2 separate regions of the Homo sapiens genome follow, and region 1 is linked to region 2. The links come from fine-mapping of genetic effects on gene expression. A gene starts in region 2. The other region holds a variant in brackets. All regions are shown on one strand. Distances are between the middles of the regions.

Region 1 (5,375 bases), 26 kb after region 2:
TGTCTAGTTCATGGAAAGCCTCCTTACTTAGTTTACTTTAGATAATTTCTTAAATTGAACACCTGTTAATCTTCTAAATATCACCTTTTGTCAGAACTCAGAGTTATGATTGGCCTTGACCATACCAATGCTCTCTGATTAAGCTTCTCTCTACCCTGAATACTAGAGAAACTAATAGTTAGGCAGGAATGTCATCACCCTTATTTCTCCTAAAGAAATTACAGATGATGGATCCTCATCGCTCTACAACACTTAGGATGAAAAGTCTCCCTGTAAAAGGGAGGGGGAGTGTGTCAGAGGCACTGGAACAAGAATGACTCCATCTTGAGTAGGAGTTGGGTAAAGTGAGGCTGAGACCTGCTGGGCTGCATTCCTAGGAGGTTAGGCATTATCTAGAATCTAATGGGGCTTACTTAGAATCTAATGGCTCCAAAGCAGTTAAGATGAACAATTATCAAATTAAAGAAACGTCCTGGCCAACATGGTGAAACCCTGAGTCTACTAAAAAAATACAAAAATTAGCCAGGCGTAGTGGCACATACCTGTAGTTCCAGCTACTCAGGAGGCTGAGGCAGGAGAATTGCTTGAACCCAGGAAGTGGAGGCTGCAGTGAGCCGAGATCGAGCCACTGTACTCCAGCCTGGGTGACACAGCGAGACTCCAGTCTCAAAAAAAAAAAAAAAAAGAAAAAGTTAAAGCAGTTTATGATATTAAAGCATTTAGCAAATGTTTCAGAGGCATTCGAACCAGAGCAACTCCCTCTTGAATAGGGACTGGGTAAAATGAGGCTGAGACCTGCTGGGCTGCACTCCCAGAGAGACATTCTTAGTCACAGGACAGAAGATCAGCACAAGATACAGGTCACAAAGACCCAGCTGATAAAAAAGGATGTAGTAAGAAGCTGCCAAAACCCACCAAAACCAAGATGGTGAGGAAAGCTACCTCTGGCTGTCCTCACTGCTCATTATATGCTCATTATAATGCATTAGCATGCTAAAAGACACTCCCACCAGTGCCATGAGAGTTTACAAATGCCATGGCAATGTCTGGAAGTTAACCTATAGGGTCTATAAGGAAGAGAAATCCTCAGTTCCAGGAATTCCTTGCCCCTTTCCCAGAAAGCTCATGAGTAATCCATCCCTTGTTTAGCATATAATTAAGAAATTTCCAAAAATAGCCAACCAGCAGCCCTTGGGGCTGCACTGCCTATGGAGTAGCCATTGTTTTGTTTCTTTACTTTTCTAATAAAAACTTGCTTTCTCTTTACTCTGTGGACTCACCCTGGATTACCCCTTGTGTGAGATCCAAGAACCCTTTCTTGAGGTCTAGATTGAGACCCCTTTCCAATAACAAATCTATATTTTACTCAAACCAAGGAAAAGGGTGTGAATAACTGCAGTTAAGACTGTAACGGCTCAGTGGGTTCACCTTGCCCACTGCCTAGACAGACCGATTTATTAAGACAGGAGAATTGCAATAGAGAAAGGGTAATTCACACACGGCCGGCTCTGCGGGAGACCAGAGTTTTATTATTACTCAAATCAGTCTCCCCAAGCATTCAGGGAGCACAGTTTTTAAGGGTGGGTAGGGGGAAGCCAGGAAGCCAGGAGTGCTGATTGGTCAGGAATGAAATCCACAGGGAGTAGAAGTTGTCTTCTTGCACTGAGTTCCTGGGTGGTGGCCACAAGATCAGATGAGTCAGTTTATTGACCTGGGTGGTGCCAGCTGATCCATCAGGAGCAGGGTCTGCAAAATACCTCAAGCCCTGATCTTAGGAGCAGTTTAGGGAGGGTCAGAATCTTGCAGCCTCCAGCTGCATGACTCTTAAACCATAATTTCTAATCTTGTGGCTAATGTTAGTCCTAAAAAGGCAATCTAGTCCCCAGGCAAGAAGGAGGTCTGCTTTGGGAAAGGGCTGTTATTGTCTTTGTTTGTTTGTTTGTTTGTTGTTTTTGAGATGGAGTCTTCGCTCTGTTGCCCAGGCTGGAGTGCAGTGGCGGGATCTCAGCTCACTGCAACCTCCACCTCCCAGGTTCAAGCAATTGTCCTGTGTCAGCCTCCCGAGTAGCTGGGACTACAGGTGCCCGCCACCACACCCAGCTAATTTTTGTATTTTTAGTAGAGACAGGGTTTCACCATATTGGTCAGGCTGGTCTCGAACTCCTAACCTCAGGTGATCCACCAGCCTCAGCCTCCCAAAGTGCTGGGATTACAGGCGTAAGCTACCTCACCCAGCCACCACTGCACCCGACTTATCTTTGTTTTAAACTATAAACCAAGTTTCTCCCAAAGTTAGTTCAGCCTGCCTAGGAAAGGACACGGACAGATTGGAGGTTAGAAGCAAATGGAGTCAATTAAGTTAGATCTTTTTCACGGTCTCAGTCATAGTTTTGCAAAGGCAGTTTCAAGACGGCCAGGAAAATCTTACACATGGAGAGTTCTTTAAAGACGTAAGTTAAGGCCAGGTGCAGTGGCTCACGCCTGTAATCCCAGCACTTTGGGAGGCTGAGGTGGGCAGATCACCTGAGGTCAGGAGTTCGAGACCAGCCTGGCCCACATGGCAAAACCCCATCCCTAATTTTGTAAAAATACAAAAATTAGCCAGACATGGTGGTGCACACCTGTAATCCCAGCTACTCGGGAGGCTGAGGCAGGAGAATAGCTTGAACCCGGGAGGTGGAGTTTGCAGTGAGCC[G/A]AGATCATGCCATTGCACTCCAGCCTGGGCGACAGAACAAGACTCTGTCTCAGAAAAAAAAAAAAAAAAAAAAAAAAAAGACCTCAGTTAATTACTGGCTTTAGAGTGGAGCCTTTTAAGGAACAGGGCCAGGAAAGTATGCAGTTTCTAGGGACTAATAAGCAGGCTTGGATCCCCAAATAAAGGGAATCAGGCTATCCCTTATAGGAGTCTTATCTCTCAGTGGGGGTGGGTGGGTATGTTTCCATACCTTCTAGGTGGTCAAGAGCATGCTTCTCTGATCCAAACATGCAAAGAACTGAGTACTCCCCTATAACTGCCATTAGCCATCCCTTGAAGTATATTTCCTACCTAGTTATTACACATTAAGGCTAAAAGCTCTCTCATAATGTAATCTCTCATACCCTAAATGTAAAAAACATCAGGTAACACAATGCAAAACAGAGCAGAGCCTGACTTTTAACCAAATCTCTTATTACCACTCTAGCCAGGACAAATAGCTGATATTCCTGGCTTTTGGACTTGACCAAAGGTAACCTTCCAGGTGAAACGAATAAGACTTAACTAGGATTATGACTTAACCATGGATGTGCATTTTTTTGTTTTTTTTTTTTGTTTGTTTGTTTTGTTTTTTTTTGAGATGGAGTCTTGGTCTGTTGCCCAGGCGAGAGTGCAGTGGCACGCACAATCTCAGCTCACTGCAACCTCTGTCTCCTAGGCTCAAGCTATCCTCTTACGTCAGCCCCCCTAGTAGCTGGGATTACAGGCATGCGCAACCACGCCCAGCGAATTTTTGTATTTTTAGTAGAGATGGGGTTTCTTCATGTTGGCCAGGCTGGTCTCAAACTTCTGACCTCAGGGGATCCACCCGCCTCGGCCTCTTTTTAAAGTGCTGGGATTACAGGTGTGAGCCACTGTGTCCGGCATGTGTGGTATTTTCAAAGAGTGCAGTGGCACGCACGATCTCAGCTCACTGCAACCTCTGTCTCCCAGGCTCAAGCTATCCTCTTACGTCAGCCCCCCAGTAGCTGGGATTACAGGCACGTGCCACCATGCCCAGCTAATTTTTGTATTTTTAGTAGAGACAGGGTTTTCGTCATGTTGGCCAGGCTGGTCTCAAACTTCTGACCTTAGGGATCCACCTGCCTCGGCCTCCTTTTAAAGTGCTGGGATTACAGGCATGAGCCACTGTGCCTGGTGTGTGTGGTATTTTCAAAGAGGTGGTAAGCAGTTGTTACAAGATCTAGAATCGCCAAATGTAGCTCAGAGAAAGGAAAATTCAAGATGGGAAGTCAGAAGTTGTTCATGGTAGGGAAGATAATTAATAACTGGCAAAAGTCACACAGACAGCAAACCAGAAAGCACTTATTCCCTAAGCCGGGAATTGAACCGAGGCCACCACTGTGAAAAAAAAGATAAGGCCTTAGCCACTTAGCTAGGGTGCCGGGCAATTTCTAGTACTCTTCCCAGAAGGAGCCTAAAGCAGTCAATTTCGAGCTTGCAAAGGCTTTTAGCTGCTCAAGTTAATTTTTAGAGCTAAATATGATATGAACCTCCAAAATTCCCACCCTTCAGATGGCAGAAGCCAAGAGAAAGTACCCTGACATGGTCACAGGGTTAAAGGATCAAGCTCCCGCCTCACCTCCCCGAGTAGCTGGGATTACGGGTGCTTGCCACCATGCCCGGCTGATTTTTTTTTTTTTTTTTAATTTTAGTAGAGATGAGGTCTTGCTATATTTCCCAGGCTGGTCTTGAACTCCTGAGCTCAAGCGATCCTCCCACATCAGCCTCCCAAAATGCTGGGATTACAGGGGTACACCACCATGCCCAGCTGAAATTACCCTTTTAAACCAAAGCCAATAAGGATCTGGGTAGGCCCTTAGCTGCCAGCAGAAGTGACCTATCCTAAGAGATGATTTGTCAAGATTTTGTTAGTGGAGAGAAGACGATTCCAGAAAATCTGGGTGTTTACCACAGGCTGAGCACAAGGAAGGAAGGAAGGCTTTGGGTTTCCTTGTAGGGACAGGGGACAAGTAAGGGCTCTGGTGACTCTGTCTTGCTGTCTTGTATCCGGAATGGCCTGGGCTGCCGCCTGGGAGAATGCTGCACTCCCTAGGTCCCAAAGTGATGCCAGTGGACCTCCAGACCCCCTTCAGGGAAGGGGGTGCTGAGGATTCTGGGAAGACTACATCAGCTGACCTGAGTGAACTTGTTTCTTGTTTGTTTGTTTTGCTTGTTTGCTTGTTTGTTTGAGACAGGGTCTTGCTCTGTAGCCCAGGCTGGAGTGCAGTGGTGTGATCTTGGCTCACTGTAACCTCCATCTCCCAGGCTGAGGTGATCCTCCCACCTCAGCCTCCTGAGTAGATGAGCCTACAGGTGCGCACCACCACACCTGGCTAATTTTTTGTATTTATTGTAGAGTCAAGGTGTCACTGTATTGCTCAGGCTGGTCTTGAATTCCTGGGCTCACGTGATCCTTCCACACTAGCCTCCCAAAGTGCTGGGATTACAGGAGTGAGCCACTGCGCCTGGCCTCAACTTTTTAAATTTAATTTCAAGTGACTCAAAAGAAAAACAAGCGAAAATAAAAATAAAGTGTTAAGGCATAAACAGTTAATGGGCAGTCAGTTTCCTCCCTAGAGCTTTTGAAATTACAGACACTTGACAATGACGCCATCTA
Region 2 (5,375 bases):
TTTAAAAAACAAAACAGAACAAAAAAAAAAAAAAACATAGCTGGGACCAATGGATGGCTTGGGTGGAAGACAGATTTAGACTCTTCAAAAATGCTTTTAAAAATGCAGTAAACTCTCCTCCCACTCTTTGATCTGGACAATTAACATTTTCTCAGTCTTATATAAGCTCAACTTTTTTTTTTTTTTGAGACAGAGTCTCACTCTGTTGCCCAGGCTGGAGCGCAGTGGCACCATCTTGACTCACCACAGCCTCCACCTTCCAGGCTCAACTGATCCTCCTGCCTCAGCCTCCTGAGTAGCTGAACTATAGGCACACACCACCATGCCCAGCTAATTTTTGTAGTTTTGGTAGAGACAGGGTTTCACCATGTTGTCCAGGCTCGTCTTGAACTCCTGACCTCAAGTGACTGCCTGCTTCAGCCTCCCAAAGTGCCGGGATTACAGGTGTGAGTCACTGTGCCCCGCCATATAAACTCAACTTTAAGACAAGACCTAAACTACCTTTCCAACCAAATAGCCATCCCTAAGTTTTTTTTATCTAGGAATGCTAGAGCTTTTGTGGCCAGTAAACATGAAAAAGATGCTCAACTTCACAAGTAATGAGGCAACTGCAAATTAAAACAACACTGAGATATCATTTTTCACTCATCAGATTGGTACAAAGTTTAAAAATGATTGGCCAGGCATGGTGGCTCATGCCTGTAATCCCAGCAATTTGGGAGGCTGAGGCAGGCAGATCTCTTGAGTCCAGGAGTTCGAGACCAGCCTGGGCAAATGGTGAAACCCTGTCTCTACTAAAAATACAAAAATTAGCTGGGCATGATGGTGCGTACCTGTATGGCACTACTCAGGAGGCTGAGGTGGGAGGATCAATTGAGCTTGGAAGGTCGAGGCTGCGGAAAGCTAAGATCGCACCACTGCACTCCAGCCTGGGCGACAGAGCAGAGACTCTGTCTCAAAGAAAGAAAGAAAAAAAAAAACCCTAAATAAAATTTAAAAGTAAAAGTGATTATATCCACCACTGGGGAGTGGGTGGGGAAACTCACCCACCGTTGGTGACTGATAGGATACGATCAGCCTTGTTGGGAGGGCAACTTAGCAGGGTCTGTAACAATTTAAATGTGTATGCCCTATGACCTTGCAATTTCAATTCTAGAATTTCATTCTACAGAGATGCTTTCAAGCTCTCATGCATCCACAAAGGACGTTGTGTACAAGGATGTTTATTGTAGCATTGTTTATATTGCCCCCAAAAAGCAGGGCAATAAATAAGGATGGTTAAACGAATCATGGCTGAGTCTTAAAATACCATGCAGCTGTTGAAAAAGAGGAGCTAAGGCTGGTGTGGTAGCTCATGCCTGTAACCCCAGCACTTTGGGAGGCAGAGGCAGGAGGATCACGAGGTCAAGAGTTCAAGAACAGCCTGGCCAACATGATGACACCCCGTCTCTACCAAAAAACAATACAAAAATTACCCAGGCATGGTGGCACGTGCCTGTAATCCCAGCTACTCGGGAGGCTGAGGCAGGAGGATCCCTTGAACCCAGGAGGCGGAGGTTGCAGTGAGCCGAGATTGTGCCACTGTACTCCAGCCTGGGCAACAAGAGTGAAACTCTGTCTCAAAAACAAACAAACAAAAAAAGATAACGAATATAAAGTGACTGTTGATAACGGCTGCTTCTGGATAGGAAGGGGAGAAGAATTGGAGGAGGATTGTAACAGAACTTTTACATTTTATACAGTAACAACCACCACCTTGGCTATCACTTACGGATGGTTTACCATATGCCTGGCACTGTGACGAGGAGCAGGGATTGTCTCATTTGATCTGCACACTAGCCTACCAGGTAGGTGCTTTTATTAGCCCACTTCACAGATGAAATAAATTACAGTGTCTCACGCCTGTAATCCCAGCACTTTGGGAGGCCAAGGTGGGCGGATCACGAGGTCAGGAGATCGAGACCATCCTGGCTAACGATGTGAAACCCCGTCTCTACAAAAAATACAAAACATTAGCCAGGCTTGGTGGCACACGCCTGTAGTCCCAGCTACTCGGGAGGCTGAGGCAGGAGAATCACTTGAACCTGGGAGGCAGAGGTTGCAGTGAGCCGAGATTGCACCACTGACTCCAGCCTGGGCGACAGACTGAGACTCCATCTCAAAAAAAAAAAGAAAGAAAGAAAGAAAGAAAGAAATTAAGGTCAAACTGGGTATGTCATGAGCTCAGGCTGCTGGCTAGTAACTAGTAGAACCAGAGGTTAGACCACTTCCCAATGTATATTTCTAGTGTTGCTTGAATTATTTCACAATAATTCTGTGGGTTTTTTTATTTTGTTTTATTTTTTTAAGAAACGAGGTATCACTATGTTGTTCAGGCTGGTCTCAAACTCCTGAGCTCAAGCAATCCTACCCCATTAGCCTTCCAAAGTGCTGCGATTACAGGCCGGAGGCACCACACCCAGCCTGTGTGTTGGCTTTCTAGTTAAAACACAACAACCATAAAACAACAATAACAAGGAAAGTTAGAAAACTTTCATTGTGAAAACAAATTTCATTATTTTTCTCACTGAGTCTCAGAAAAAAATGCTGCAATCCCCTCCCTAAAATCATTTTATTTTAAATGATAGATAATTGAAAAGACTGTTCTTTGGTTGTTCATAAAAGCTCAGAAACACTTTTGAATGGACGCTTATGTTGCAATCAGACTGTCTCACCACTTCAGTGAAAATGGTTTCAATAAGAAAGAAGTAAATGAAACTTACCATTTGTTTTCATTGCCTCACAATCCAATACAGCTTTTCTACCTGAAACAGAAAAGGAACACGATAAAGCTCACTTTCCACATGACACGTTGGCTTGGAGGTTCGAGCCTCAGAATGATAAGGGGGGCTTACAAGTGACAGAAGAAAATATGCTCCAGAAGAGGAGCCTGTTCAAATGGCTCCACATTCTCCCAGTTGAAGTCCAAGACGGGGTCAGAAGGCATAGTAGAACCACAGTGGTGAGTAACTCGGAGAACTTCCTCTTTTTCTTAGCCAAGTTAAGGAAATCAGAGGGTTTGGATGAGGTTTGCATAATACTGGTTTGTTCGACCAATCTGTCTTCCTCTGTGAGTTCCTGTAAGAAGAGAGATATTTGGTAGATTGCCACTCCCCCGCCCCCCCCACCCCCCCACACCCCCACATCGTCCCATGCTGGCTGGGAAAGAGAAGAGGTAAATCTGACTGTTACATTGTCTATGTAAACCCATCTGATCTCCTTGCTCTGGACTCAGTCTATGCCAAAAGGAGTTTGGTGGAAGTTTGATTTAGTCTTTGGAAGCAAACCGACTGTCTTAAGCAGATACATACAAATATTGTATCAAAAATGCCTGCTTTTTTTTTTTGAGACTGGCCTCACTCTGTCACCCAGGTTGGAGTGGAGTGCTGTGATCATAGCTCATTGCAGCCTCAAACTCCTGGGCTCAAGTGCTCGTCCCACCTCAGGCTCCTGAGTAGCTGGGACCACAGGTGTGCACCATCAGGACTGGCTAATTATTTTTATTTGTAAAGACAGGGGTCTAGTTGCCCAGGCTGGTGTTAAACTCCTGAGCTCAAGTGATCCTCCCGCCTCAGCCTCCCAAAGTGCTGGGATTACAGGTGTGAGCTACTGTGCCTGGCCAAAAATGCCTGCTTTTGTTAAACGTTGATTCCTAGACCCCACTCCAGACTTACTGGGTTTCAAGTCCAGGACGCTGATTTTTTTTTTTTTAAACAAGGGCCCTGAGCAATTCTTACGCACAGTGAAGGCTGAGAAATATCTGTACAAGGTGCTGCTGCCTCAGTGATTTCTGAATCAAGGGAGCCTTGGGGACTTGATATTACGGCAAGCCCTCCAGTGCCAGGAGATCTGAAGTAGGAGTTACCTTAGATCAGCCTTTGAAATAGAACGTGCAGGCTGGGTGCGGTGGCTCATGCCTGTAATCCTAGCACTTCGGAAGGCTGAGGCAGGCGGATCACCCGAGGTCAGGAGTTTGACACCAGCCTGGCCAACACAGCGAAATCCCATCACTAGTAAAAATACAAAAAACTTAACTGGGTGTGGTGATGCGTGCCTATAATTCCAGCTACTTGAGGGGCTGAGGCAGAAGAATCGTTTGAACCCGGGAGGTGGAGGTTGCAGTGAGCCAAGATTGCACCACTGCACTCCAGCCTGGGTGATAGAGCAAAACTCTGTCTCAAAAAAAAAAAAAAAAAGTCAGTTGAAATAGAATGTGCAGAGCCACTTCTTGATGGAGTGGAGATCACCAAAAGGATAGAAAGGTATGACTATAGGGCTAGGTGGGCAAGACAGCTGGTTGACACTTGCAAGAATTGACAGGTCCACCAAGAGAGGAAGCAAGGAGTTGAATGGCTGGGGCAGCCTTGAGCTGGGACATTCATCTCTGTACCTTAGGTCCCAAGATGTAACCAAATCCTTCCTTATTGACTCAGCGTCACCTAGCTAGCATCCTCTAGCTAGGAGGTTTGATACTGAATCTTGCTCTGTCTCCCAAGCTAGAGCACAGTGGCACCATCTTGGCTCACTGCAATCTCCACTTACCAGAATCAAACTATCTTTCCACCTCAGCCTCTCTAGTAGCTGGGACCACAGGCACAAACCACCATACACTACTAGGTTTTTAACTTTTTTATAGAGATGAAGTCTCACTATATTGCCCAGGCTGGTTTTGAACTCCTGGGCTCAAGCGATTCTCCTGCGTGTGGCCTCCAAAAGTGCTAGGATTACAAGCATGAACCACCATGCCCCACCCTTACTACAACAACTTTACAGCACTTTATAAAAGTTTGGATGGGTGAACTGTCAGATACATGTGCAAAATTCCATCAACTTTTTCTTTTCTTCACGTCTGCAATGTTTTTCATCAGCATCCTGTCACTTTTTGGCTACCACTGCTGGCCAGCTGGAAAAGAACAGACAACCATAGAATCATTCCCCGCACCCACATTTTCTTTCTCTCTCTTTTTTTTTTTTTTTTTTTGAGATGGAGTCTCGCTCTGTTGCCCAGGCTGGAGTGCAGTGGCGCTATCTCGGCTCACTGAAACCTCCACCTCCTGGGTTCAAGGGATTCTCCTGCCTCACCCTCCCAAGTAACTGGGATTACAGGTACGTGCCACCACACCTGGCTAAATTGTGTATTTTTAGTAGAGACGGGATTTCACCCCATTGGCCAGGCTGGTCTCGAACTCCTGACCTCAGGTGATCTGCCTGCCTCGGCCTCCCGAAGTTGTGGGATTACAGGCGTGAGCCACTACCCCCGGCTCCACATTTTCATATAGACCCATGGAAATGGTTTCTCTATCAGATCCAGTACAAATTGCAGACAAGTCTGGCAA

What was found.
Region 1: its variant is fine-mapped to the expression of MILR1 in esophagus muscle (GTEx, PIP 0.99).

Annotation. Positions count from the first base shown.
Region 1 is chr17:64,420,363-64,425,737 of GRCh38, reverse strand. No RefSeq gene overlaps it. Among named protein-coding and RNA genes, the nearest start is that of MILR1, 26 kb to the left of the region's middle. The variant G/A (reference allele first, on the strand shown) is at 2,696.
Region 2 is chr17:64,446,743-64,452,117 of GRCh38, reverse strand. MILR1 (mast cell immunoglobulin like receptor 1) reads right to left here and starts at 3,003. Exons shown (of 10, transcript NM_001085423.2): 1 at 2,895-3,003; 2 at 2,763-2,804. The coding sequence starts at 2,949. RefSeq lists a silencer at 3,091-3,140.